7 separate regions of the Homo sapiens genome follow, and all the other regions are linked to region 7. The links come from fine-mapping of genetic effects on gene expression. A gene starts in region 7. Each other region holds a variant in brackets. All regions are shown on one strand. Distances are between the middles of the regions.

The links. PIP is the estimated chance that this variant, and not a neighbour inherited with it, causes the effect.
Region 1: its variant is fine-mapped to the expression of TCTN1 in tibial artery (GTEx, PIP above 0.99).
Region 2: its variant is fine-mapped to the expression of TCTN1 in whole blood (INTERVAL, PIP above 0.99).
Region 3: its variant is fine-mapped to the expression of TCTN1 in whole blood (TOPMed, PIP above 0.99).
Region 4: its variant is fine-mapped to the expression of TCTN1 in unexposed skin (GTEx, PIP above 0.99). The same link has a PIP of 0.9 or more in whole blood.
Region 5: its variant is fine-mapped to the expression of TCTN1 in whole blood (TOPMed, PIP 0.91).
Region 6: its variant is fine-mapped to the expression of TCTN1 in whole blood (TOPMed, PIP above 0.99).

Annotation. Positions count from the first base shown.
Region 1 is chr12:110,919,350-110,923,538 of GRCh38, reverse strand. It overlaps MYL2 (myosin light chain 2), which reads left to right and starts at 2,960. Exons shown (of 7, transcript NM_000432.4): 1 at 2,960-3,012. The coding sequence starts at 3,010. RefSeq lists an enhancer at 2,152-4,189. The variant G/A (reference allele first, on the strand shown) is at 1,713.
Region 2 is chr12:110,289,446-110,293,652 of GRCh38, reverse strand. ATP2A2 (ATPase sarcoplasmic/endoplasmic reticulum Ca2+ transporting 2) reads right to left here. Exons shown (of 20, transcript NM_170665.4): 4 at 1,529-1,633. Among named protein-coding and RNA genes, the nearest start is that of ATP2A2, 10 kb to the right of the region's middle. The variant AG/G (reference allele first, on the strand shown) is at 2,012.
Region 3 is chr12:110,756,922-110,761,128 of GRCh38, reverse strand. No RefSeq gene overlaps it. Among named protein-coding and RNA genes, the nearest start is that of PPP1CC, 16 kb to the right of the region's middle. The variant C/TC (reference allele first, on the strand shown) is at 2,412.
Region 4 is chr12:110,816,290-110,820,496 of GRCh38, reverse strand. No RefSeq gene overlaps it. Among named protein-coding and RNA genes, the nearest start is that of CCDC63, 29 kb to the left of the region's middle. The variant G/A (reference allele first, on the strand shown) is at 1,832.
Region 5 is chr12:109,975,132-109,979,338 of GRCh38, reverse strand. All of the region lies in intron 7 of GIT2 (GIT ArfGAP 2), which reads left to right. All of the region lies in intron 1 of LOC124903013 (a long non-coding RNA gene), which reads right to left. Among named protein-coding and RNA genes, the nearest start is that of GIT2, 19 kb to the left of the region's middle. The variant G/A (reference allele first, on the strand shown) is at 2,071.
Region 6 is chr12:109,764,858-109,769,064 of GRCh38, reverse strand. It overlaps FAM222A (family with sequence similarity 222 member A), which reads right to left. Exons shown (of 3, transcript NM_032829.3): 3 at 1-1,053. All of the region lies in intron 1 of FAM222A-AS1 (FAM222A antisense RNA 1), which reads left to right. Among named protein-coding and RNA genes, the nearest start is that of FAM222A-AS1, 6.5 kb to the left of the region's middle. The variant G/A (reference allele first, on the strand shown) is at 2,248.
Region 7 is chr12:110,612,050-110,616,256 of GRCh38, reverse strand. It overlaps TCTN1 (tectonic family member 1), which reads right to left and starts at 2,128. Exons shown (of 15, transcript NM_001082538.3): 1 at 1,855-2,128. The coding sequence starts at 2,074. RefSeq lists an enhancer at 1,802-1,851.

The sequences.
Region 1 (4,189 bases), 310 kb before region 7:
CAGTTGGAGCTACTGACTGCTCACACAGGGTTTTAACGAAAATCTATGGTGTGCCTATTAGCTAGGGAAACATTTATTCTGGTGTTGTCAGAGAACCTTGGACAGAAAAGCTCCTCTTGATGTGTGCACTGCACATATGTGGATGCGTGTACATGCACGTGTCTGTGTGCCTCTATGCATGTGCAGACGTGTTTTTGTCTGTGCATGCATGTGCCTACACACACACATGAACACATCTTTTGTTATTAAAGATCTGTCAGAAGAGTGTCCTGGGTAACTCTAACCCATGTGGGACTGCAGAGAAGAAAAAAACCCACACCTTTTTTTGTCACAGCCATCAATGGTCCTTGGGTTTGTGTGCCCCCAAATTGAGATTATTTTTCCACCTGAGAAGGGGAGTGAGTGATAGCTACCATTTGCCAGGTCTCACCTCCTTTTACCCTCTGGAAAACCTAATAAGAAAAGTGATTTCTTTTTTTAAGCTCTGGAAAACTCCAGCCCCAGGGGGCCTTCTGTTCCTCAAAGCCTCCAAATTCTCCCTGCCTTGAGGTATGTGCTGTCCCCACTGCCTGGAGCCCCCTTTGCAGACTCTGCTTGGAGGAGCCCACCTGCGCCCCTGTCTGAGGCTGTCACCTGGCCACTGCCATGCCTCTGTCTCATCCCTGCATGAGATCCGTCACTGCCTGCAACTGTCTGGGTTGTGCATTTGTTTACTTTCTCCTTGTCCATCTTCCCCTCGCACTTACGCACCTCAAGGGAAGGGAATTTGTTGCTTTGCGCTGGGCTCGATGAAGGGGAATGAATGCTGGTTCAGCCATCAGCCCCGCACCCACACTACTGGGAGGGCAGAGGGACATTCTCCTTCTTAGAGGTGTGGCCTCTGGCACTCAGGCCTGCCACCCACGGACACTAAATAACCACAATGATTCCAAGCCCCGAGTTCTTGCTCCCTGAATCCCAAGGCTGTCTTTAAGGGCACAGGAAGATGGCCATCTTTTGTTGTTTTGGTTTAGTTTGGGGTTTTTTTGGTCTTTGTTTTTGAGATGGAGTCTTGCTCTGTCGCCCAGGCTGGAGTGCAATGGCACGATCTCGGCTCACTGCAACCTCCGCCTCCTGGGTTCAAGCAATCCTCCTGCCTTAGCCTCCCAAGTAGCTGGGAGTACAGGCATGTGCCACAACGCCCAGCTAATTTTTGTATTTTTAGTAGAGATGGGGTTCTGTCATGTTGGCCAGACTGGTCTTGAACTCCTGACCTCAGGTGATCTACCCGCCTCGGCCTCCCAAAGTGCTAGGTGTGAGCCAACATGCCCGTCCTTTTTTTTTTTTTTTTTTTTTTTGAGTCAGAGTCTCACTCTGTCGCCCAGGCTGGAGTGCAATGGCGCTATCTCGGCTCACTGCAACCTCTGCCTCTCGGCCTCAAGCGATTCTCCTGCCTCAGTCTCCTGAGTAGCTGGGACTACAGGCCCGCGCCACAACGCCTGGCTAATTTTTGTATTTTTAGTAGCGACAAGTTTCATCATGTTGGCCAAGGTCGTCTTGAACTCCTGACTCAAGTGATCCACCCGCCTCAGCCTCTCAAAGTGCTGGCATTTCAGGTATAAGCCACTGCACCCAGCAGGAAAGCTGTCTTCAGTAAAAGTATTATATAATGACACCTTGCATTCTGAGAGCAGCTGCTGTTTTCAAGGCTCTTAAAGAGCCTGGACTCTGGA[G/A]ACAAAGGGGCCTCCAGAGGGGTCCACGCCTAGCTCCATCACTGTGTGACCCTGGGCAGCTCACTTCGCCTCTCTGAGCTTTTGTTTCCGCATCTGTAAAATGGGGGCATGGATGATGAGGTGGTCCCCACCCTCTAGGGTGGCTGGAAAATTATGTGTGGGAGCCATGAGCACATAGTGTCCGGCACGTGCCAGTGCTCAGTCAATGAGATTTGTCATTTCTTCAGTCAACAAATATTTATTTTTGAGCTGCTGCTGTGTGCATCATGAGCTGGGAGCTGGGGAGACAGTCAGTGGTGAGGGAAACTAAAGTGATCCCTGCCCTCTGAGCTGACGCTCCACAGATGCTGAAGAAAATGAGTCAGTGCACTGTGGGCAGTGTTCGGGACTGCCTCACGCTGTGCAGAGAAACAAAGAAGGGAGATCGGAGCGCAGGAGGTGCGTGGCTGTGTTATTTGTTTGTTTTGAGACAGGGTCTTGCTCTGTCACCCAGGCTGGAGTGCAGTGGTGTGATCGTGGCTCACCACAGCCTCAACCTCCCGGGCCCAAGTGATCCTCCTGTCCCAGCCTCCTGAATAGCTGAGACTATAGGCATGCACCACCACGCACAGCTATTTTTTTTTCTTTTGCGTAGAGACAGGCATCTCCCTATGTCACCCAGGCTGGTCGCAAACTCCTAGGCTCAAGCAATCTTCCCGCCTCGGCCTCCCGCCGTGCTGGGATTTCAGGCATGAGCCACAGTGCCAGCCTTCATGGTTATTTTAAAGATGGTGGTCGGGGAGGCTTCACTCAGGAGATGACATATGAGCAAAGATGCAGTGAAGGAGGTGAAGGAAGGAGCCGTGCGATGACTGACAGAAAGACATTCCAGGTAGAGGGCACACAGGTGCAAAGACCCTGAGGCCAGATCCAGGCTGATAAAACAGAGCATTTTAGCAGTCTCCTCTCCCTGCCATTTTTTTTCTCAAAATTGACAAGCACAAGTGTCCCCGGCCCAAGCACCGCAGAGAGCGCGCAGCATCTCTCCCCGTGACCATGACCCAGCTACTGCCTCTTTAACCTTGAATGCCTTTTTGGGGGCTCACGTGTCACCCAGTGGCGAGTGAGCCACCCTTACTTCAGAAGAACGGCATGGGGTGGGGGGGCCTTAGGTGGTGCCCGCCTCACCTATGACTGCCAAAAGCGGTCATGGGGTTATTTTTAAACATGGGGAGGAAGTATTTATTGTTCCTGGGCTGCAGAGAGCTGGGCGGAGTGTGGAATTCTTCTCGGGAGGCAGTGCTGGGTCCTTTCCACCATGGTGAGTACAAGGGCTCCAGGAGGTGATGATGCCGGGTGGGCGAGGAGAGGAAGCCACTACAAGCGAGGGACCACGGCGGAGGGGGAGGAAGGCGGCCCTCAAAGCCTCCAGCCCCTTGTGGAAAAAGCCCCATTGACTGCGCGGGCACAGAGGAACCCCAATCAATGCCCCGATAGGCCACAAATAACAGCAGCTCTCGGGGACTCACAAACACAAAATAAGAGAGTTGGCTTTTTTATGGCTTGTCTACTGACCTCTCGAGGAATCAATAACTCCCAGGACTTGCAAAATGGGATTGAATGCTTTTAAGGATCAAATTGTAATTCTTTTCTCTTGTTCAGGCAGCTGGGAAAAAGAATGTTTTTGTTTTCACCTTTTGAACTTGCAAATTTAAAACCTTTCTTTCTGTGCTGTTGGGTTAGGTGTCCCCCTCCTGAAGTGGGCAGTCCCCAAATCAGGGTCAGCACAGGAGGGAGAGTGGTTAGAGGCAGGAACTCTGGAGTCAGAATGCCCAAGTTCAACTCCCCAAGTTCAACGCCCAAGTTCAACTCCGGCTCTGCCTTCTGTGTGTGTGGCTGTGTGATCTTGGGCAAGTGACCCAACCTCTCTGAGCCTCAGTTGCCTCTCCTGTAAAATGGGGATGATAATAATAGTATCCACTTGACAGAGTGGTTATGAGAATTAAATAATACATATGTAGAGTACCGAATCATTTGCTGTTATTGAAAGTCAGAGAGAAGTGGGGTGGGGAAGAAAGGTCAACTCGCTCTTCTCTGCCCTATTGATGTGGTGCAAGGACGGAGCATTCAGAGAGGAGGTTTTGCTGCCATTTGGAGCAAGGGAAAATTGTGGGGTGTGGGGCGCAGTTGGGTTTTAACACCTTGAAGAACTGTCATTTCATCTTGGCATTCATCATGGCTTAGTGAGCCTGACTTTTTCTTTCCCTCCAATCAATTCTCCTTCTGTGCATTACTGAGCTTTTTGTGAAATGCATCAGAACAAAAGTGGCTGGATCCTGCAGGGGCGATCTGAAGGTGTGGCCTCCATCCCCAGGGACACACCTGTGGCTTCTCCTAGTTGGTGAAGGAGCCACTGCAAGATGCACAAACGCTTATGATCCACTGGTACCAGAGGGCTCTGGAGAAACTTCATGTCATGTCCTTTGCTCCCTCCAGCA
Region 2 (4,207 bases), 320 kb after region 7:
AGGCCAAGGCAGGGGGAATCATCTGAGGTCAGGAGTTTGAGACCAGCCTGACCAACAAAATGAAACCCCATCTCTATTAAAAGTAAGTAAGTTAGCTGGGCATGGTGGCACGTGCCTGTAATCCCAGCTACCCGGGAGGGTGAGACAGGAGAATTGCTTGATCCCGGGAAGTGGAGGTTGCAGTGAGCCAAGACTGCACCATTGCACTCCAGCCTGGGCAACAAGAGTGAAAGTCGGTCAAAACAAACAAACAAACAAACAAACAAAAAAAAAAAAAAAAAAAAAGGCCGGGAGTGGTGGCTCACACCTGTAATCCCAGCACTTTGGGAGGCCGAGGTGGGTGGATCACGAGGTCAGGGGTTTGAGACCAGCCTGATGGTGAAACCCCGTCTCTACTAAAAATACAAAAATTAGCTGGGTGTGGTGTCAGGTGCCTGTAATCCCAGCTACTCAAGGAGGCTGAGGCAGAACTGCTTGAACCTGGGAGGCGGAGGTTGCAGTGAGCCGAGATCGTGCCACTGCACTCCTGCCTGGGCGACAGAGAGTCGGTCTCAAAACAAAAACAAAAAAAAGGTCTACTTCAGTCCTCAAAGGGGTGATTATATCCGTCAAATACCTAAAAGATCAACACTTAACATGAATTTTAAGTCTCAGAGTCTGTAGTAAGCACTGAAGGGGAAACAATTTTTATAGCTAAACCTACCAAAAAAACCCAAGGAGAATAAAAATGACATGTAGCTTTTAAAGTTTGTCACAGGAAGCAACTAGGAGACATAAAGATAATGGTTCTCACATTCTCATTTCCTTAAGCAGCTTCTCTCACCCATTTTAATTCCTTGCTACCGTAAAGAATGAACAATGTTTTTCTGAGACAGTGTTGCTCCTTTGCCCAGACTGGAGTGCAGTGTTACGATCATGGCTCACTACAGTCTTGACCTCCTGGGTTCAAGCAACCCTCCCACCTCAGCCTCCTGAGTAGCTGAGACTACAGGCTGGTGCCACCACACTTGGCGAAGAATGAGCAATCTTAACTGCAAAGTTTATATGCATTAAGGTCAAAAATTTGCAATTAATTAAATTAATAGGCCGGGCATGGTGGCTCACGTCTGTAATCCCAGCACTTTGGGAGGCTGAGGAGGGCGGATCACTTGAGGTCAGGAGCTCAAGACCAGCCTGGCCAACATGGTGAAACCCTGTCTCTTACCAAAAAATACAAAAATGAGCTGGGCGTGGTGGTGCGTGCCTGTAGTCCCAGCTACTTGGGAGGCTGAGGCACGAGAACCACTTGAACCTGGGAGGAAGAGGTTGCAGTGAGCCGAGACAACACCATTGCACTCCAGCCTGGGCAACAGAGTGAGACTGTGTCAGAAAACAATTAATTTATGGAATAAAGGGAAAATACATGTAAACTTCCCGCAAACATATTTTTACTCAACACATCAGGAAAAACAGATAACAGAAAGATTAATACAGCCCTAATCACTTACATAACTTATTGAAATTTTGCAGTACAGGAATTTTTGCTTACCTGCCATACACCCACAATTGCATTGGCTACTAATATGAGTAAAATTACAAAAGGTTCTACAAAGGCTGTAATTGTTTCTTCACCTTCTTCAAACCAAGCCAAAACCTAGAAGAGAAATGGCACGTTAGAATGTGTCTTTTTAGGCTTAATGTCACTTTTTTAAAAAGTGGCTAGCACTGGCCGAGCATGGTGGCTCAGGCCTGTAATCCCAGCACTTTGGGAGGCCAAGGCAGGCGATCACCTGAGGTCAAGAGTTCCAGACCAACCTGCCCAACATGGCGAAACCCCATCTCTACTAAAAATACAAAAAATTAGCTGGACATGGTGGTAGGTGCCTGTAATCCCAGCTACTCAGGAGGCTGAGGCAAGAGAATCACTTGAACCTGGGGAGGCAAAGGTTGCAGTGAGCCGTGAGTGTACTGCATGCCATTGCACTCCAGCCTGGGCAGCAAGAGCGAAAACTCAAAAAAAAAAAAAAAAAAA[AG/G]TGGCTAGCACTAAAGGGATTATGATAGACAAAATCTATTTTCTTTCTCTAGAAATAAACGGTAGAAAATGCAATTATATAAACAACTGGCTATGTCTTGTTCATAAGAATTCTTGAAAGTCAAAACTATACTTCAGCTGGGCACAGTGGCTCACACCTGTAATCCCAACACTTTGGGAGGCTGAGGCGGGCAGATCACCTGAGGTCAGGAGTTCCAGACCAGCCTGGCCGACATGGCGAAACCCCGTCTCTACTAAAAATACAAAAAAATTACCTGGGCATGGTGATGTGTGTCAGTAATCCCACCTACTGGGGAGGCTGAGGCAAGAGAATCACTTGTACCTAGGAGGCGGAGGTGGCAGTGAGCCGAGATCGTGCCACTGCACTCCAGCCTGGGCAACAGAGCAAGACTCGGTCTCAAAACAAAAAAAAAAGCCGGGTGCGATGGCTCACGCCTGTAATTCCAGCACTTTGGGAGGCCAAGGCGGGGGGATCACCTGAGGTCTGGAGCTCGAGACCAGCCTGACCAACACGAAGAAACCCTATCTCTACTAAAATTACAAAATTAGCAGTGTGTGGTGGTGCATGCCTGTAATCCCAGCTACTCAGGAGGCTGAGGCAGGAGAATCGCTTGAACCCGGGAGGCAGAGGTTGCGGTGAGCCAAGATCGCACCATTGCACTCCAGCCTGGGCAACAAAAGCAAAACTCAAAAAACAAACAAAAAACTATACTTCATGGCTGGGTGTGGTGGTTCAAGTCTGTAATCCCAGCACTTTGGGAGGCCGAGACAGGTAGATCGCCTGAGGTCAGGAATTCGAGACCACCCTGGCCAACAAGGTGAAACCACCTCTACTAGAAACACAAAAAATTAGCCAGGTGTGGTGGCGCACACCTGCAGTCCTAGCTAGTTGGGAAGCTGAGGCAGGAGAATCGCTTGAACCTGGGAGGCAAAGGTTGCAGTGAGCTGAGATCGCACCACTGCACACCAGCCTGGGCGTTAGAGCAAGACTCAGTCTCAAAAAAACAACTATACTTCTTAAAAATACCTTATCTTTTGATGTAATAATTCCATTTTAGAATCCAAATAAAATCTGGGGAGAGGGAATAAATTCCATTCATTTTATATGTATCTATTTAGAAAAAATAAAACTTCAATTCTTGATTAAAGTAAAAGGTGATCATCTAACAGTCATGTTCATTTAGTTATTATTCATATCAAGTAATATCCATGTGACATAAATCCACAGTATAAACAACTTGATCACTGACTTAAATTTTAGAGCATATATAAACTGTTTAATTCTAGGCCGGGAACAGTGGCTCATGCCTATAATCCCGGCACTTTGGGAGGCCAAGGCAGGAGGATCATTTCATGCCAGGAGCTTGAGACCAGCCTGGGCAACATAGCGAGACCCTCATCTCTATAAAAGAAACAAAAAACCAGTTAATTCCCCGTTTCTTTTCAGTGGTACTACTGAAGGCTGTTTCAGAACCGCAAAGCTGTTGGGAGATCCGAAGTGTATTTTGTAGGTTATCCTCCATATGACATTTATACAGCAACACAGCACTTCAGAGATAACCTAAGTCCAAAAATGTAACTGGTCACAGAACACTGCCCCAAGAAAATGGGGCAGAGGTTTAAACTTTTAGCTCATACAACTATAAACTTGTTAAGATTTAAAAACTACAAAGTAAGAGTCACACTGCACTTCCCAATCCAACAACTATAAACGTGGTAAAAAGAGAGAACTCACCACAATGAATACTAAGAATAATGAATATGGTAAAGAGTGGTCTATGTGGTTAAAAATTTAAAAACCTCTTTTTGTGGAAACTTACCAATCCAGAAACAGTGTTAACCACATCTAATGATTTAATCTTGGAGGTCGAATTTTTTTTAATTAAAAAATTGCTTAAAATGTTTGCATATTTCATAATAAAATCTTCTTTAAAAGATCTACTTAGTAAATCATGAAAACACTCCTCCAAATGATTTATGGCAATAATGAATCCAAATGACTCATTAGAAGACGGCATGAATAAGAAATATCTGTTTGAGCAGGACAAAAAGAAAAATAAAAACAGGAGGCACCAGGACCACCAAGTCCTGACAGATGCCAATCACCACCAACGTCCAGTGAGCTAGGGCAAACAGACAACCAGAATGAGTATAATAAATGTTACTGTATGCTTT
Region 3 (4,207 bases), 140 kb before region 7:
GTCTGATGAGGGTCATGGGCCCACCACATTTTTGTAAATAAAGTTTTATTAGGAAACAACCACACTCATTCATTCTTTGATGTATTGTCAAAGACTGCTTTCATGCTACATTGGCAGATGAGTATTCATGACAAAGACCACTGGGCCTGCAAAAGTCAAAAATATTTTCTATCTGGAGCTTTACAGAAAAAGTTACCATCTCCTGCTCTAAATCATGTCACACTCAAATTCTCTGGTGTATGGAATTTTATGACCTTATAGAAGGAAGCATCACCTTTTCATAGAAAGTCCATAGCAAGCTGAAAGGGCCAAACTGCCCTGCCATCCCATTTGTGTGGAGGCAGGCTCTTCAGATGCTAAATCTACCCCCAGCTTTCCGAAGGCAAGTGGTGAGGTGAGGAGCATGGACACCAAGCCCCCGGCAACTTCACTCTGAGCCAGAAGCAGCATCTTGCTGTGGGTCTTGCTGGATGGTAGAATTATGTGTGATTTCATCCTTTCCACGTTTCCATGTTTTCTAAATATTTAACACATTATATTTGTCTGCTAGAGCTTTCACAACAAAATACCACAAGCCAGGTGGCTTAAGCAACAGAAATTTATTTCCTCGCAGTTCTGGAAGCTGGAAGTCCAAGACGAAGGTGTCAGCAGGGCAGTTTCATTCTGAGGCTCTCTCCCTGGCTTTAGATGACCGTCTTCCACCTGTCTTCACAGGGTCTTCTTCTGTGTGTGTTTGCTGTGTTCTAATCGCTCTTTTTTTTTCTGCTCTGTCACCCAGGCTGGAGTGCAGTGGTGCAATCATGACTCACTGCAGCCTTGATCTCCCAGACTCAAGTGACACTCTCAAGTGAGCCACCATGCCTGGCCCCTAATCTCTCTTCTTTCTTCTTTCTTTAGTCACCTGAGTAGCTAGGGCCATAAGCCATAGGCACACATCACCACACCAGGCTAATTTTTTTTTTTTTTTTTTTTTTAGAGATGGGGTCTCACCATGTTGCCCAGGCTGGTCTCAAACTCCTGGGCTGAGGCAATCCTCCTGCTTCAGCCTCCCAAAGTGCTGGGATTAGGATTACAGGCATGCACCACCATGCCTGGCCTAATGTGTCTTCGCTCTGTCACCCAGGCTGGAGTGCAGTGGCGCGATCTCAGCTCACAGCAAGGTCCACCTCCCCAGTTCACACCATTCTCCTGCCTCAGCCTCCCAAGTAGCTGGGACTACAGGTACCCGCCACCATGCCCCGCTAATTTTTTTTTTTTAAATAGAGATGGGGTTTCACTGTGTTAGCCAAGATGGTCTCGCTCTCCTGACCTCATGATCTGCCCACCTCGGCCTCCCAAAGTGCTGGGATTACAGGCATGAGCCACCACACCCGGACCCTAATCTCTCTTCTTATAAGAACGTCATTCATATTGGATTAGGGCCTACCCTAATGACCCCAATCTAACTCAGTCACCTCTTCCAAGGCCTTATCTCCAAATACAATCACATCCTGAGGTTCTAGGGGTTAAGACTTCAACCTTGGAATTTTGGGAGGATGCAGTTCAGCCCATAGCACATATTGTATTTGCATTATTCAAACATGGACAGTAAACTGCTAAAAATTTTTAAAAGGTAGACCAAAAATCATGACCAACATTTTAATCTGAAATTTTTATTATGTAAGTAATATCTGTCTGATACTTTTAAAACAATTCAAAGAGTATAGAAGATAACAAGGGGAACACCAGCACCTATTCCCAGCCAGCCACACTCCCCACTGTTGACATTTTGTGTATATCCTGCCAGAAATTTTCTTTTTGTTAAATTTATTTTTATTGTTGAGATTTTTATTTTATTGTTGAGGTCTCGCTATGTTGAGATTACAGGCGTGAGCCACTGCACAGGGTCTTGCTATGTTGCCCAGGCTGGTCTTGAAAACCTGGGCTCAAGCGATCAACCTGCCTCAGCCTCCCAAAGCGCTGGGATTGCAGGTGTGAGCCACTCTGCCCAGCCCCCTACCGGAAATTTTCTCTGCCTAGACAAGGATATATAACCACCTCATACTTTTTTATTTTACACAAACAGGTTTATGACTTATATACTGCTCTGCAACGTGACTTTTTACACTGAACAATAAATAAATCATTGTATATTTTCAAAGCCTGTCATACATCTCAGTGCCTGCTTCTGGAAAACCCAACTTGCAACAGGTTATTTTGTTTTTATCTTTAAACATAAGCACAAAACAAAGAAATAAACAGCAACAAATACATAGAATGAGTATGAAAGGAGAGGGATGATTATTCTTTTAATTTTTATTTACCTTGGTGATGTTGCCATGCTGATTTTGGACTTTGGAAAATTAAATCAATAATGAGCCATTTGTTTCCCTCTCCCACTCCCACTGTCAAAATAATTAAGATTTTTTTTT[C/TC]CAGCCTTAACTCCCTCGGGTGGTTTCTCTTCCTTAATCTATAAAGCAGCAAAGTCAAAAAGAGACTGTCCCTTGCCCCGGCGGCTGCAGTGATGGGCACTCTTGGGCCAGAGAGAGGCCTGTTCTGCCCCGTGAGATGGCCCACAAATGGCCTTTCTTCCTCCTAGAAACAGCCATCAGCTCCCAGGCCCTGCCAGGCCTGTGATGTGAGGTGAATAGCAAGGTTCCCACGCATACCCACTGGGAGCCCAGTGCTGTGTTAAGCTCTTACCTGCATTACTTCATTCAATTCTTCCCCAACTATTATCCCAATTTTACAACTATAATGTTGTGTTTTTGTTGTTTTTTGTTTGTTTGTTTTTGAGATGGAGTCTCGCTCTGTTGCCCAGACTGGAGTGTAGTGGCGTGATCTCGGCTCACTGCAACCTCCACCTCTCGAGTTCAAGTGATTCTCCTGTCTCAGCCTCCCGAGTAGCTGGGATTACAGGCACGTGCCACCACACCTGGCTAATTTTTGTATTTTTAGTAGAGACGGGGTTTCACCATGTTGGTCAGGCTGGTCTCGAACTCCTGACCTCATGATCCGTCAACCTAGGCCTCCGAAAGTGCTGGGATTACAGGCGTGAGCCTGCACCTGGCCCATTTGTTTATGTTTATTCAACTTTTTTTGTTGTTATTTTAGAAACAGAGTTTCACTCTATCACACAAATTGGAGAGCAGCGGCATGATCACTGTTCACCGCATCCTTGACTTCTGGGCTCAAGCGATCCTCCTGCTTCGGCTTCGTAAGTAGCTGGTACTACAGTGCACCCACCCCACCTGGCTAATTTTAAATTTTTTTGTAGAGACAGGGTCTCACTATGTTGCTAGGCTGGTCTTGAGCTCCTAGCCTGAAGCCATTCTTCCACCTTGGCCTCCCTAAGTACTGGGATTTACAGGCATGAGCCACCATGCCTGGCCTATTCAAGAATTTTTTACTGAATACCTTGTATGTGCCAGGCACGGGCCCAGGCACAAAAGCAAGAATAGCAAGCAGACAAAAATCCCCACCCACGTGGAAACAGAAAACAGGCAATCAAAGACATAACACAATGTCAGGCAGTGAAGAATCACATGGAGAAAAACAGAAAAATGGGAAGGGGGCTGGGTGCAGTGGTTCATGCCCATAATCCCAGCACTTTGGGAGACAAAGACAGGAGGATTGCTTGAGCCCAGCAGTTCGAGACCGGCCTGAACAATATAGTGAGACTCTGTCTTTACAAAAAAAAAAAATTTTTTTTTTTGAGACAGTTTTTCACTCTTGTTGCCCAGGCTGGAGTGCAATGGAGCAATCTCGGCTCACTGCAACCTCTGCCTCCCGGGTTTAAGGGGTTCTCTTGCCTCAGCCTCCCGAGTAGCTGGGATTACAGGCATGCACCACCACACCCAGCTAATTTTTTTAAGTAGACACGGGGTTTCACCACATTGGCCAGGTTGGTCTTGAACTCCTGACCTAAAGTGTTCCATCCGCCTCGGCCTCCCAAAGTGCTGGGTTTACAGGCATGAGCCACCGCGCCAGGCCCAAAAATTTTAAAATTAGCCGAGTGCAGTGCTCTGTGCTTGTGGTTCCAGCTACTCAGGAGGCCGAGGCTGCAGAATCACTTGAGCCTGGGTGGATGAGGTTACCGTGAGCCCTGATCGTGCCACTGCACTCCAGTCTGGGTGACTGTACCAAACCCTGTTTCAAAAAGAAAAAGTGTGATGGAAGGATTGAGGGCTAGGGAGCATTTTATTCCGGTGGTCAGGGAAACCCTCTC
Region 4 (4,207 bases), 200 kb before region 7:
GAAGAATAAAGAAGGAAGAAGCTTATTTCTTTCTTAACTAGGCCTGGTTATGGTGGTCAATGGTATCCTCCCAGCCAGATGCACCTCCATTCAGGGCACTCCTACGTCGCAGTTCAAGATGGTGGCCTTCAAGTTCCAGATGCCAGAATAAAAGAAGGGATGAAGAAGCAGTGACCTCTTAGAGAGAGTGTTTCAGAACCACTGCGGGACTCTTCCCCCGACATCCTTAGCCCATACCAGAGTCCCATGGCCACACTTACCCACAAAGGAGGCTGGGAATTCTGGACAGCCATGTTCCCTAGTAAAATTGGATTTCTTTTACTTTGAAAGAGGGAAAAAAATGGATGTTGGGAACATGGAGCAGTCTTTGCCACAGTTCTGTAGGCCTCGGTGTCCTCTTCTGTGATCTGTGGGTAACAATAGTTTCACCTCACAAGGTCGTTGCAAGAATGAATTGAGTTAATGGGTATAAAGAGCTTACTAAGTGGGCAGTGAATATTAGTAATTATGATGATGATTAGTAGAACATCTTGACAGCAAATTAGCAGGAGGAAAAAGAAGTCACTGTTTTCTGTGCCAAGGAAGGGTGTGACCAGGTGAAATCGGGCTCGTTGATTTGGTAAATGTGGGCACCTCCCTAATGACAGGGAACCGCCCAGAGAAAACATTCAAGACCAGCTTTAATGCCCAGAGAGCAGTCAAAGGTAAATTCGTATCTCCCTTTGTATCCAAGAATCGAGTCAATGTCCTCAGGGACAATTTGTGCTGCTAAGGGAGCCAAAGGTGGCCCTTGAATTAACTCACACAATTCATTTGCTTCTCAAATCTTGTTCCCAGGGCCTGGGTGAAGCAGGCCCTGGGCTCCCTTGATAGTAAGTGGGGCTGGGGAGTGAGTGGTTGCTGTCAGTTGAAGGGACCACAGGACAGGGCTGGAATCTTGAGTCTTTCCAGGGGGTGTCTGGTGCTCTCGTCCACTGAACTTGGACAGAAAATCCTCTTCTTAGGAGCAGACAAAATTTTTCTTGGGAGAGAAAAAAAGTTTTTTGTTATCATCTTTTCTGATTTCAAGATTAGCAATTTGTCTAGCAAAATCCCAACAAACTAACATGTATCCAACAGGCCTTGTGAGAGGGATGTGAACCAGAGCAACTCCATCTTGAATAGGGGCTGAGTAAAATGAGGCTGAGACCTACCGGGCTGCATTCCTAGATGGTTAAGGTATTCTAAGTCACAGGATGAGATAGGAGGTAGGCAGATACAGGTCATAAAGACCTGGCTGATAAAACAGTTTGCAATAAAGAAGCCGGCTAAAACCCACCAAAACCAAGATGGCAACAAGACTTGACCTCTGGTCGTCCTCACTGCTACGCTCCCACCAGCATCATGACAGTTTATAAATGCCATGACAATGTCAGGAAGTTACCGTATATGATCTAAAAAGGGGAGGCATGAATAATCCACCCCTTGTTTAGCATATCATCAAGAAATAACCATAAAAATAGGGCCACTAACAGCCCTCAGGGCTGCTCTGTCTATGGAGTAGCCATTCTTTTATCCCTTACTTTCCTAATAAACTTGCTTTCACTTTACTCTATGGACTCACTCGACTTCTTTCTTCCGAGAGATCCAAGAACCCTCTCTTGGAGTCTGGATCGGGACCCCTTTCCAGTAACAGCCTCAGGAGCGTCCTGGAATTCCACTGGGGGTTTCTCAAGATGTAGTGTGCACCAGGGCCTTGTTAAAAATGCAGGTGTCACCATGAGTTGCTAATCATTGACATGAACAATGGGTGTACAAAGGTTAATTATAATATTCTGAGCCAAGGAAGGTG[G/A]CTCATGCCTATAATTCCAGCAGTTTGGGAAGCTGAGGCAAGAGGATCTCTTGAGCCTAGGAATTCAAGAACAGCCCTGGCAACATAGCAAGACCCCGTCTCTACAAAAGAAATTAGAAAATTAGCTGGGTGCAGTAGTGCACACCCATAGTCTGAGCTACTCAGGTGGCTGAGGTGGGAGGATCCCATGAGCCCAGGTGTTTGAGGTGACTGAGCCATGATCGTGCCACTGCACTCCAGCCTAGGTAAAAGAGGGAGACCATGTCTCAAGAAAATAAAAAAATAGGCCAGGTGCAGTGGCTCATGCCTGTAATCCCAGCACTTTGGAAGGCCAAGGCAGATGGAGCACTTGAGGTCAGGAGTTCAAGACCAGCCTGGCCAACATGGTTAAACCCCATCTCTACTAAAAATACAAAAAATTAGTGGAGCATGGTGGCACATGCCTGCAGTCCCAGCTACTCGGGAGGCTGAGACAGGAGGATCACTTGAATCTAGGAGGCAGAGGTTGCAGTGAGCTGAGATGGTGCCACTGTACTCCAGCCTGGGCGACAGAGCAAGACTCTGTCTTAAAAGAAAAGAAACAAAATAAAAAATTGTGGCCGGGCATGGTGGCTCATGCCAGCACTTTGGGAGGCCGTGTTTTTTAACATTTTATAAGCATTTTATAAGCATTAATTCATTTAATTCTCACAATAACCCTATGAGATAGGTACTATTATTAATCCTATTTTACAGATATGGAAAGTGCTAGAAATGGAAAAAATAGGAGGATAAAAACAAACACCTGGCCGGGCGCGGTGGCTCACGCCTGTAATCCCAGCACTTTGGGAGGCCAAGGCGGGCAGATCATGAGGTCAGGAGATCTAGACCATCCTTGCTAACACTGTGAAACCCCATCTCTACTAAAAATACAAAGAATTAGCCGGGCGTGGTGGTGGGCGCCTGTAGTGGGTGGCTCATCCCAGCACTTTGGGAGGCCGAGGCGGGTGGATCACAAGGTCGGGAGATCGAGACCACCCTGGCTAACACGGTGAAACCCCGTCTCTACTAAAAATACAAAAACAAAAGTTAGCCAGGTGTGGTGGCGGGCGCCTGTAGTCCCAGCTACTCGGGAGGCTGAGGCAGGAGAATGGCGTGAACCTGGGAGGCGGAGCTTGGAGTGAGCCGAGATCGCGCCACTGCACTGCAGCCTGGGCGACAGAGCGAGACTCCATCTCAATTTAGAAAAAAAGGTAACATTCTCTCTACTTTCATGTATGTTCAACATTTTCTATAACAAAAGGTTTTTAATTTAAAAAAATATATTTAATACAGGTAGCAGAACCCAGCCCCAAAAACTTCTCAATCTGTAGCTCAGGGTGGAAAAGGAATCTTTTCATGCCCACTTGTTTCAACACAGTTAGAAAAAAACACTTAGATTGGATTCATTACGTACTAGATCTGTTGGAAGTGCTTTATAAATAGGAAGATAATCTCATACCTGCATGTCATTATTGCACCATTTTACAGATGAGGAAACTGAGGCATACATAGGTGAAGTGATTTGCCCTCTTCTCACAGCTAGCAAGTGGCAAGGCTAGGATATGAACCCAGGCAGCCAGGCTCAGAAACGAAGTTCCACCCTCTATCTCCTCTGCCTCTTACAGTTCTGTGAGCAACCTCTATTGACATTCTAACTAGCTCCTTTCAGACTTTTTAAAACTCTCTTGTTTTCACATTCATCTATATCTGCATAAAGATTGTAGGAAGAACAGGCTGGGCACAGTCCAGCCTCTGGTCCTTTGTTCCTCTGGTCCTTTTGTTACTTGGGCTTGGAAAGTTGGGACTTTCCTTTTGATTTAGTTCTAGGAAGTCAGCATGAACTGACCTTAGTTTCCCTGCCTGCAGACGCTATTCTCCTGCCTCAGTGTCAGCAACGAATTCCTAGTGGATTTTACCTGGCTATCTCAGGTATCCCAGAATATCCCAGAGCATCCCAGGAAGAAGCACCTCCTTGAGTTTAAAATACTCACATACCATCCACCTCCCCATCCCAGTCACTGTCTAACCCTCTTCCCCTGCTTTGCTTGTTTCCATTGCTGTTATTTTTCTCTGCTATTATATATTCATTTGTTATTGTTTACTTACCTGCTGTCTGTCACTCCCTGTAGCACATGAGCTTCATGATGGCAGGGACCTTGTCTCCTGTTTTCCTTGCTACAGTACAGCCCTGGCACCTTGCCCAGCAACTGACACACACTAGGTGCTCAATAAAGCACTGAGTGCGTGTGTGAGTCAATGAGAAGTTGGGATATGAGGACAGCTTATGTCTGTGAGCTGGGCCCAGGCTGGCCCTCCCAGAGATGATGTTTCACAAAGGTCTCAGCTCAATCCTGA
Region 5 (4,207 bases), 640 kb after region 7:
GCGCCACTGCACTCCAGCCTGGGTGACAGAATGAGACTCCATCTCAAAAAAAAAAAAAAAAAAAAAGCCTTTTTCTGGTTAAAGAGCAGGAAATGGGACTTCTACAGGACAGAGAGGAAGGGGATTCCCCTGGGGTTTTTTCCTCCTCCTCCTTCCTTTTTCTGATCTCTCCCATCCAGCCCCTAGGCAAGCCTGTGGCTGCAATAGCAGCAGCAGCAGTGGCAGCACAGGTTCCTAAATCTCTGAGCAAGGGGATGAGGGGGGATCCTGATTGCTTGTCTTTTTCTCTCTATTCTCTCACCATCTGCCCAGGAGGCAGAACCTCACCTGGTCAGTTGCCTGCTAAGACAAAAATATGAACATTTTTGCATAAAGTTTAAAGAAGGCCCAGAGTCTCATAACAAAACATTCACAGTGTCTAGGATATCATCCATAATGACTTGACATCTGAGTAATTCTCATGTACTTGCCAGGGAAGGCAGCCAACAGATGCCAACCCCAAGATGACACAAATGTTGGCGTTATCAGACAAAGATTTTAAAGCAGCTAGTAAGACCATGCTATAAGAAGTAAAAGCAAACATTCTTGAAACAAACAGGAATATAGAAAGTCCCATCAGAGAAATAGAAGATACAGAAGAGAACCAAATAGGAATATTAGAACTGAAAAATACAAACACTAAAAATTTAAAACTTACTGGATGGGCTTAATAGAAGAATAGAGATGACAAAGAAAGTCAATGAATTGAAAACAGATCACTAGAAATTATCTGGTTTAAGCAACAGAGAGGAAAAAAGAGTAGGAAGAAAAGACTGAACAGAGTCTCAGGGACCTGTGGGAAAATACTAAAATGTCTGACATTTATGTCGTTGGATTCCCAATAAGAGATGAGAAAGAGTGGTGTGTGCAGAAAACGTATTTGAAGAAATATTGGCCAAAAAAACCCTCTAAATTTGGGACAGGCTCAATGGCTCACACCTGTAATCCCAGCACTTTGGGAGGCTGAGGCGGGCAGATCATTTGAGGTTGGGAGTTTGAGACCAGCCTGGCCAACATGGTGAAACCCCATCTCTACTAAAGATACAAAAAGTAGCCGGGCATGTTGGTGCGCACCTGTAATCCCAGCTACTCAGGTAGCTGAGGCACAAGAATCACTTGAACCTGGGAGGTAGAGGTTGCAGTGAGTCCAGATTGAGCCACTGCACTCCAACCTGGGCAACAGAGCGAAACTCCGTCTCAAAAAAAAAAAAAAAAAAAAAAAACCTCTAAATTTGGTGAAAGACATAAACTTACAGATTCAAGAAACTTAGAAAATTCCAAAGAAGATAAACTCAAATCCACAGTTGAGACACATCAAAATCAAACTGTTGAAAACTAAAGTTGAAGAAAACATCTTGAAAGCAGCCAGGAAAAAGTGACACATAACATATATAGAAAAACAGTGATTTGAATGATTGTGGATTTCTTATCAGAAACCATAGAGATGAGAAGGAAATGAAATAATACTTTGTTTGTTTGAGATGGAGTATCTCTCTGTTGCCCAGGCTGGAGTGCAGTGGTGCAATCTTGGCTCACTGAAACCTCCGCCTCCCAGGTTCAAGCGATTCTCTTGCCTCAGCCTCCTGAGTAGCTGGGATTACACGTGCCTGCCACCATGCCCGGCTAATTTTTGCATATTTAGTAGAGATGGGGTTTCACCATGTTGGCCAGGTTGGTCTCGAACTCCCGACCTCGTGATCCGCCCACCTCGGCTTCCCAAAGGGCTGGGACTGCAGGCATGAGCCACCTCACCCAGCCAGAATAATACTTTTATTATTATTATTATTTTGAGACAGGGTCTCACTCCATCGCCTAGGCTGGAGTGCAGTGGCGTGATCTCGACTCACTGAAACCTCAACCTCTTGAGCTCAAGTGATCCTCCCACCTCAGCATCCACAGTAGCTGGGACTACAGGTGTGTGCCACTGTGCCCAGATAACTTTTGTATTTTTTGTAGAGATGGGGTTTCACCATGTTGCCCAGGCTGGTCTTGAATTCCTGAGCTCAAGTAATCCACCCACCTGGGCCTCCC[G/A]ATTACAGGCATGAGCCACTGCTCCTTTTTTATTATTATTATTTTTTCTCATCTTCTTTGTGATGGTAGAAACAATACTTTTAAAGTGCTAAAAGAAAAGAGCTGTGAACCCAGAACTCTATATCCAATGAAAATAACTTTGGAATGAAGGCAAAATAAGGACATTCTAACAGGAAAAAAAAGAATTATTCTTTACTTTAACAGAAATGCTAGAGAAAGTTCTTTGGGTGGAAGGGAAATGATGCCAGAGGGAATCTTGGAACTTTAGGAATGAAAGAAAAACAACAGAAATGTTAAAGATGTGGCAGAGTAAGACCCTGTCTCAAGAAACAAACAAAAAGTTGAAATTGTCATACATATCTTAAAGCTGTAACATTGTCAGCCAGGTGCAGTAGCTCAAGCCTGTAATCCCAGCACTTTGGCAGGCCGAGGCAGGCGGATCACCTGACATCAGGAGTTTGAGACCAGCCTGACCAACATGGTGAAACCCTGTCTCTACTAAAACTACAAAAATTAACCGGGCATGGTGGTACATGCCTGTAAACCCAGCTACTCAGGAGGCTGAGGCAGGAGAACCACTTGAACCTAGGAGGCAAAGGTTACAGTGAGCCGAGATCGTGCCACTGCACTCCTGCCTGGGCGACAGGGAGACTCCATCTCAAAAAAAAAAAAAAAGAAAAGAAAACGCCAGGCGCGGTGGCTCACGCCCGTAATCCCAGCACTTTGGGAGGCCGAGGTGGGCAGATCACGAGGTCAGGAGATCAAAACCATCCTGGCTAACACGATGAAACCCCGTCTCTACTACAAATACAAAAAATTAGCCGGGCGTGGTGGTGGGCGCCTGTAGTCCCAGCTACTCGGGAGGCTGAGGCAGGAGGATGGCGTGAACCCGGGAGGCGGAGCTTGTAGTGAGCTGAGATTGCACCACTGCACTCCAACCTGGGCGACAGAGTGAGACTCCGTCTCAAAAAAAAAAAAAAAAAAATTATCTAGTAGGGTTTTCAGCATATATCAGTGTAATATATTTGACAACTATAATATAAAAGGGGATAGGGTAAAAAATATAATGGTAAGATTTCTACCTTCTACTGGAAATGTAAAATAGGATTTCTAAGTAGACTGTGAAAAGTTGTGTGTGTGTGTGTTTGTGTGTGTGTGTGTGTATAGTAATTTCTACCATAACCACTGAAAGAAGACTACAAGCCAGGCACGGTGTAGTGCCTGTAATCCCAGCACTTTGGGAGGCTGAGGTGGGCAGATCATGAGGTCAAGAGATTGAGACCATCCTGGCCAACATGGTGAAACCCTGTCTCTTCTAAAAATACAAAAATTAGCTAGGCATGGTGGTACGTGCCTGTAGTCCTAGCTACTTGGGAGGGTGAGGCAGGAGAATTGCTTGAACCCGGGAGGCAGAGGTTGCAGTGAGCCGAGATCATGCCACTGCACTCCAGCCTGGGTGATAGAGTGAGACTCCATCTAAAAAAAAAAAAAAAAAAAGACTACAAAGATATGTGATCAAAAATGCTAGAGGTAAATGAAAATGGAGTATTAAAAATTACTCAAATCATCAAAAGATATTTTGATTCAAAATATTCAAAAGAGGAGGGGGAGAACAAAAAACTAAGGACCAAATAGAAAATAAATAATAACATTATAGACTTAAGTCCGTACATATCAATAGTTACATTAAATGTTAATGACCCAAACACATCAATGAAAAGCAGAGATTCTCAGAATGGATTAAAAAACAAAAGGGGCTGGGAGCTATGGCTCACACCTGTAATCCCAACACTTCAGGGAGCCTGAAGCAATTCTCCTAATCGCTTAAGCATAGGAGTTTGAGACCAGCCCAAGCAACAGAGCAAGATCCTTTCACTACAAAAAATTTTATAGAAAGCAGCCAGGCATGGTGGTGCATGCCCATAGTCTCAGCTACTCAGGAGGGGCTGAGGTGGGAGGATCACTTGAGCTCAGGAGGTCAAGTCTGCAGTGAGTGCTGATCATGCCACTGCTCTCCAGCCTGGGCAACAGAGCAAGACCCTGCCTCAAGAAATAAACAAAAAACCATAAGGCCTAATATATACTGTCTACAAGAAACCCATTTTAAATATAACAATATAGGTAATAAGTTAAAAAC
Region 6 (4,207 bases), 850 kb after region 7:
CCCGGGCTGCCCCCGGCCCCAGCTCCGTGACCACCACCGCCGCCGCTGGGTTGTAGCAGTCGCTGGTGGGTGTCACCAGCACACTGTTCCACGGGGCCGCAAAGTACTGGCCTACGGTGAAGCTGGTGGGCAGCCCCACGCCACAGTTGAGGGGTGACCCGCTGGCCCGCTCGTATGCCCGGCCCCCGCAAGCCTCAGGGGACTTGCTGGCCACCGTGCTCCCACTGTAGGCACGCAGTGGCTGGGGCGGCGGTGGGGGCGGTTTCTGCGGCCACAGCAGGTAATCCAGGCCGCTGTCTGCGTACCCTGCAGGCTTGGCGGCCCCAGCCAACGTCAAGGCTTGGGTGGCTCCCTGGCCCAGCTCAGTGCCTTTCCGGCAGTCGGGCAGACCGGCTGCAGCCGAGTAGGCCATGCTGGGGAAGCTGGGCACTGGGCCGTGCTTGGCAGGGCTGGGATGGGGAATAGCCATGCCCTGGCAGGCAGGGGGTGCGGCGCCCGGGGCCTGGCACTGCTGGTTGAGCTGGTACAGGAGGCTGTGGATGGAGGGCAGGTTGGAAGGTGGCAGGGGCAGGCCCCGGCCCGGCAGGGGGATGACGGAGGCGGCAGTGGCGGCTGCGGGCAGGCCGGGTGGTGGAGCAGGCGCCTCAGGTGGCTTGGGGTAGGCCAAGGGACCCAGAGTGCTGGGCACTGGGTAGGGCGCAATGCCCACCTGCACGGCGGCCGGTGACAGCTTGGTCCGCTTGCCCTCGGCGCTCTTGAGCACACTTTTGGCGGGCCCAGCTGGTGCGGCCGTGCTGGAGGAGGAAACCGCGGCCTTGACAATGGCCAGAAGGCCCTGGTAGCCAGCGGTGTGCTGTGGGTAGGGGCTGTAGCGCTGGCCACTGGTGTCATAGCCATTGACTGTGCGGCTGAGGTGCTTGTGCTGGGGCACACGGATGTTGGTGGGGAAGATCTTGATGGACAGCGGGCTGTTGGCCACCTTCTCGGCATAGGCGTCCAGTTCTGCTGGGCTCGGGTAGCGGGAGGAATGCATGGCGCTGGCCACCGCCTCGCCTGTGGGAGGAAAGCAGGTGTGAGGGCCCATCAGGAGGCCATGCCAACCTCTCCCCACAGGGCTCACGAGTCCCGCCCCCTCCACTCATTTCCCATTCATTTTACTCCTTATTCCTTCTACATTTTTAAACTTCGAATTTCAGTGTAAAGTGCAGGGAACTGCCTGCATCATAAGCTTGATGGACTTTCACAAAAGGAACACACCTGTTTTATGGTACCCAGGCCAGGAGACAGGACATTGCTAATCCCCTGTAGGGTCCCTGGGCCCCTCCCAGTCTCTAACCACACCACGCTAACCACTATCCTGACTTCTAACATGGACTGGTTGTGCCTGGTTTGTGTATGTGGTAAGATGGAATTCTACAGTATGTACTCATTTGCACCTGGCTTCTGTCACTTCATACTATGTGAGAGTCATCCAGGTGGCTGTGTGGGGAGTAGTCTGGTCTGTCTCATCGCTGTATGGTATTTGTTGTGTGACTATGCCGCAATCTATTCATCGTTTCTGTTCTTTTAGAGACAGGGTCTTGCTCTGTCACCCAGGCTGGAGTGCAGTGGTGCAGTCATGGCTCACTACAGCCTCGACCTCCTAGGCTCAAGTGATCCTAGGCATGCGCTAGCATGCCTGGCTAATTTTTGTATTTTTTGCAGAGACGGGGTTGCGCCACGTTGGCCAGGCCAGTCTTAAACTCCTGAGCTCAAGTGATCCTCCTGCCTCAGCCTCCCAAAGTGCTGGGATTACAGGCATGAGCCACTGCACCTGGCCCAACCTTTCTATTCTTGATGGCATTTGGGTTGTTTCTAGCTGGGTGAGGTGGCTCACACCTGTAATCCCAGCACTTTGGGAAGCTGAAGTGGAAGGATCGCTTGAGCCCAGGAGTTCAAGATCAGACTGGGTGACACAGCAAGACCTTGTCTTTATAAGAAAAAAAAAAAAAAAAAAAAAAAAGAAGCCAAGCATTATGGTGCATGCCTATAGTCCTAGCTACTTTGGAGGCTGAGGTGGGAGGATCACCTGAGCCCAGGAGTTGGAGGCTACAGTGAGCTGTGACTGTGCCATTGCATTCCAGCCTGGCCGATAGAGCAAGACCTTGTCTCAAAAAAATAAAAGTAAATAAATACAGTGCCATGGCCCCTAGTGCATGCAGAGTTCTGTTGGAAATATACCCAGGAATGGAATTTCTAGGTCACAGG[G/A]GAGATGCCCCTGCCCGGCTTCGGGAGAAAATGCCTGACCATTTATCCGTGAGACCATGCCAGGCTACACTCCCACCCGCAGAGCACAGGAGTTCCAGTGGCCCCACAACCTGCCAGTGCTTGGTGTCATCTTTCATTCTGTCACCACTCTGGGGGACATTCCTTCCTTCTAACCCTTTTATCCTCCGTATGCCTTCCTTCCTCACCTGTGAAACGGGATGATGACCCCCTGCCCACCTCATTGGCTGGTTAAGTGTGCTACTACGTGAACACGGCAGATGGGGCTTAGCGCCAGGGCGAGCTGCTGCCTCTTGCTTCCTGGCCCCTCCTTGAGTCTACTGTTCACCTGTAAGGCCAGCATGGCTGCTGCTGCCTTTTTAGTGAGCCGCCTGCATGGGGCTGAAGGGTACGCTCTGTGCTACAGGCTGACTGTCCCCACTATAAGTGGACACAACTGGCCCTGCCATGGGGAAGGAGGGCCATGGCGGGCAGACTCCTGCCCCCATCCATAGCCCCTCCCTGGTCCTGAGACATTCCCAAGGGCAGCCCACAGCTTTCCGGGGCTGAGGGGGTATGGAGAGTGGTGGTGGTGGAGTTCCATGAGGCAGATGGAATGGCCCTGGGCATGTAGTTTGCCCAGCTGAGCCTGTTTTCCCACCTGTAGAATGAGGGTCATGATCATGCCAGGTCTCCAAGGTGGCCTCAAGGAATGGAGGCGCCGGGGGCTCAGTAGGGGGTGAGGTACATGATAGGTGCTTGGAGCTCATTACTTTCAGGGGAGCCTGGGAGAGGAGCTTCACCACTCGGCCTCTGCTTCCTCATCTGTAAAATGGGGTGATGCTACTGCTAATACTACTTCCCAAGATGGCTGGGAGGGTTTGACGGGTCATGTGCGGTAGATGGCGTTAACAAAAGCTGGTGTTCTGTGAGCGTGAGTATTAATACCTTCCCCATCTGCCCAGAGAAAGGGCCCTCCCAGAAAAGGGGCAGGGGACTCATGCCACCCTTCAGACAGGCACAGGTGGGACTGGCATCGCAGCTGGGGATAGAGTGCAGACCCTGCTACCTCCCCACTGATCAGAAGGCTGCTGGCCATGTCCCAACCTTCTAAAGCATCGTCCCTGACACCTCGTGGGCTCACAACCAATCCAAGTGAAATGGGATGGAGAGGAACAGGCGGTGGCGGGACATGGGGGTCCAGAGACAGCTTCCCAAAAGGAACTGTATCCTGGTTAAGTCCTGGGCCACTGGTAGAAGAGGTGAAAAGGGAGGGAGAAACAGATTTCAGGCAGAGTAAACAGCCCAGGCAAAGGCCCTGAGGCAGAGAAGTAGTCAGGGTGGGAACTGCAAATGACTCGGGAGGAGAGAGGCACCGGGGCAGGCTTGCAGAGAGAAGCCCAAGAGAGGTGGCCGGCCGGGAGGGCCTCTTCGCTGCAGGAAAGCGGCTCTCACTGCACGGGGCACTCTGGCTGTGTGTAGAGACATGATTGGCTGTCACAGCTAGGGGTAGAGGTGCTACTGGCATCGGGTGGGTCATGGCCTGGGATGCCACTAAACATCCTACAATGCACAGGACAGCTCTGCCACAGAAAAGGGTCCAGTCCCAACTGTCAGCAGGGCCAAAGGGGGAGAGGCCCCGACGTGGGGCACTGGGCAGCCATGGGAGGTTTTAAGCAGGGTAAGGCATGGGCAGGCCTATGAGCCTAGGCAAATGAGCTTCAGTGGGCTTATTTGCCTCTGCCCTGGGTGAAGGGTGTGGTCTGACCTGGCCAGGGCAGCAGGGAGTGAAGAAGTAGGTGGCTCTCCGTTCATCTGGCCTCACTGGGGCTGGGCAAGTGGACCCAGCCATGGACCCCCATCCCGACTCTGCCCGGGGCAGCCTCCTCCTAAGTGGCCTAAAATAAACTCGGTGTGGAGAATGGAAATGTCACTTTGGCCAACGGGGGAATCTTTCTCCGAG
Region 7 (4,207 bases):
AATAAAGTGTGAGGACAAGCACAAATTCATCCCCTATACTGGAAAAACAGCCTTGAACACATGCTATAATAATGATGTTTCAAGCATAGCTTTATTTTGGAGAGAAAATGCATTAACAGATGGAGTACTTACATGAATAAAAGACAATCCAGTCCAAAAACTTTAGAGTTTCAGGCATTGAATACTTGGCTTTCTTCTGTCCCAGTTTATCACTGATTTAACTTCCCTACTAATTCATCAAATCAACAATTTAAATATAAAACAGAGCTCTGTTTATATATTAAAATAGCAAATATATTTCTCTGTACTTTTTCTTTCAGATTACTCGTAATTCAGAAAGGAGAGCTTTTGGAGAAATAAAGGTTCAGTAACCGCAGTTAAGTCCTAGAGTTCAAGATCTCAGCTGATGACTTTTTTACTTACTAATACTGAGCCTTAATCAATTTGAGAAAAGATCTTCTTAAGAAGGGATAGGCTGGGCACAGTTGTTTACACCTGTAATCCCAGCACTTTGGAAGGCCAAGGTGGGAGGATCACTTGAGCCCAGGAGTTTGAGATCAGCCTGAACAACATAGCGAGATCTCATCTCTACTAAAAATAAAAAAATAAAAAAAGCAAGCTGGGGGAGCACGCCTGTGGTTCCAGCTACTCTGGAGGCTGAGGCAGAAGGATCCCTTGAGCCCAGCAGATTGAGACTTAAGTGAGATATAATCACGCCACTGCACTCCAGCCTGGGTAACAGAGCGAGACCTTGTCTCAAAAACAAAAAAAGAATAAAAAAAGATTAAAAGTACTGCATATCTATTGGGGTTACTCTCAATTCACACAATCGGAAAATTTTAAAAACTTTTTTTGAGATCATGAACCACTTTAAGAATCGGCTGCTATGAACTCTCATCTCAGGAAAAGGCATATTCACAAAGTTTTGCACTCAATCTTAGCGGGTCACAGTCATTCAGTGAAGTCATCCATGTCAATTTTTTTTTTTGAGACAGTCTTGCTCTGTCGCCCAGTCTGGAGTGCAGTGGTAATTACTGCAACCTCTGCCTCCTGGGTTCAAGCGAGTCTCCTGCCTCAGCCTCCCGAGTAGCTAGGATTACACCATGCCCGGCTATTTTTTCTATTTTTAGTAGAGACTGGGTTTCGCCATTTTGACCAGACTGATCTTGAACTCCTACCTCAAGCAATCCACCCGAGTTGACCTCCCAAAGTGCTGGGATTACAGGCGTGAGCCACGGCGCCAGCCAAACGTCAAATTAGATTATAAAATATTTCCACTAAATGTGTAATTCTAGAATTAATCATTTTCTGAAAAAAATGTTAATTATCCCTACATATGACTCCTAAGAAGTGAGCATAACCCCTCCCTCAATAGCTTTCCACCTCCAATTCAACACAGGAGGAATCCTGGGTTTTTAGAATTCAGGTCAACAGAGAAGGGTCTTAACATAGTCACATTTAGTAAGATAGACCTTTGGCCTCTCTTTAAGTGAAAGTTCAGTGCAGCCAAGGCACTAATTTCCACCATTGTCTCGACTTAATTTCGTCTTGGGCTGCAAGAATTCATTATTGCTCTTTGCATCACTGTTGTCTGGGACCACTTCAAGTATTTTCAAAGGTTTGATACCGTTCCACTTAAACTCTGAGACCCGGTTTTCTCATTTACCTGACAGTGATAGTAACAGCTACTTCTCAGGGTTATTGTTTAGAGAATGGACGTTTATGGAACACTCAGCAGTGTCTGCACACAGTAAGTGCTCAATAAGAGTTAGCTATCATTATTACGTCCTCACCGGGGCTGTCCCCTTGAGGTTGGATCACTGTGGACTCCAGGAGCTGGCACATGGTACCCACCGTCCGTGACTGGGGTAGGCCTGGGGCCGGAGGAGGGCCCTGGAGCCCTGGGAGTCCCGGGGGGCCTGGTCGACGGGAAAGTTCCGAAGGTGGCCAGGGCTGCCTCGGTGGAGTTGAGGCCCTCTGTCGTCACCGCCGGGGTGGCATCGGTCTGGGCGCTCACGGAGGCCCAGCAGCCCAGGAGCACCACCAGGAGCGGCGGGAGACCTCGCGGCCTCATCTCCCAGGGAGTCCCAGCGAGGCCCGCGACATGGACAGCGCGTTGCCCGGCAACCGCGACAGCCAGGCGCGGGGCATCACGGGAAGGGGCTTGCGAAGCCGCGAGAAGCTGCCGGAGACTGACTGGGGCGAAGCCTGGATGAGGCAGGGGGCGGATCCCGGATGAGGCCGGAGGGCGGCGCCTGGGTGAGGCAGCGATGGCAGGCACAGGGGCGAGCACTAGTGAGCGGGTGTGAAGCTGGCGTAAACGAGGGGCGTGTAAATCCCGGCTGTGGTTTCCAACCGGTCCGCGGCGCTTGCTTAAAAAATGCAGATTTTCTGTAGTTCCAGCTACTCGGGAGGCTGAGGCAGAAGAATCGCTTGAACCCGGGAGGTGAAGGCTACAGAGAGCCGTGAGCGTGCCACTGCACTCCAGCCTGGGCGACAGTGTGACACTCTGTCTCAACCAAAAAAAAAAAAAAAAAAAAAAAAGACGGATTTCCAGGTACCACCTCAGGAGATCCTGAGTCAGTTAGTCTAGGGCAGGACCCAGGAATCAGTTTTTGGGGGATTTTTTTTGAGACAGGGTCTCACTCTGTCGCCCAGGCTGGAGTGCAGTAGCGCGATCTCGGCTCACTGCAGCCTCGACCTCTGGGACTCAAGCAATCCTCCCACTTCAGCCTCCTGAGTAGCTGGGAACTCAGGCGCGCGCCACCATACCCAGCTAATTTTTGTATTTTTTTTTTTTTTTTTTTTTTTTTGTAAAGACGAGGTCTCCCTCCGTCGCCCGGACTGGTATCGAACTCCTGGTTCAAGTGATCCACCTGCTCCAGCCTCCTGAGTCCTGAGTAGTTGGGATTACAGGCGTGAGCCACCACTCCCAGCCAGGAATAAATATTTTTAACAAATGTCCGGACGCAAGCAGATGAGTTGGACGGAAATTTAGGAAGCGCCGTCCCAACGCCACTAACGTGGGTGTTTGGAAGGAGCACAGGGATCTGTGAGATCACTGTCTCTGAATTTTCTCTATCCCAGACTCTGTCAACACTGGCTTCACCTTTTTATTTTAGCTGCATCTCACAAGGTTGCCAGATAACTTCTGTCTGCTGTATTGTGATAAAGGGGACAAATGAACACTTAATACCTTTTATTATTTTTTGTAGAGAGGGGGTCTCACTATGTTGATCAGGCTAGTCACAAACTCCTGGCCTCAAGTGATCCTCCCGCCTCAGCCTCCCAAAGAGCTAGGATTACAGGCATGAGCCACCACGCCAGGCCTAAGAACCTATTTAAAGACAAAAATCTTTTACAAAAATTAAGTAAAATAATTTAGACATCTTAAAGGGGAAAACAAAGCAAATCCACTGTAATGCTACAAAACGACCTGGAGACCCTACGATTTAGGAAACCCTCTCCATTCTGAATGGGCTTATTTAGGAGGTACCCAAGCCCAAGAATGTTGGCTGCACCTTTGACACTTAATCTCCATACAGTTCAGAAGTAGATGTCGAAGTACTTAGACGTGGCCAGGCACAGTGGCTCACACCTGTACTCCCAGCCCTTTGGGAGGATCGCTTGAGTCCAGGAGTTGAGACCAGCCTGGGCAACATGGTGAAACCACATCTCTACAAAAAATACAAAAATTAGCCAGGTATGGTGGCACATTCCTGTAGTCCCAGCTACTCAGGAGGCTGAGGTGGAAGGATCGCCTCAGTCTGGAGAGCTTGAGGCTGCAGTAAGCCATGATAGTGCCACTGCACTCCAAAACAAAAAAACCTTAAACATAACACAGTATTTATTCAAGAAATGTATATACCAATTCAAAAGGATGTCAAACAGTATATATATCTAGTTTATTAAATGTATTTAGCAAAACTAAATCATCAAAGTGATATCTTTAGCACCTTCCTGTGGCATTCCAGAGACAGTGTATAAAAATATAATTGAATCACTCAAATGTGTAAGACAGATACTTCTTTTTTTCTGCAAAGGATTGCTTTAGCATCTGACTGAAATTCTGGACTGCTTTTAATAACTGATTAAATGCTTCCCCTTTTAAAAAAAATAACCAAAAGTAGGCCGGGCATGGTGGCTCACGCCTGTAATCCCAGCACTTTGGGAGGCTGAGGCGGGTGGATCACGAGGTCAAGAGATC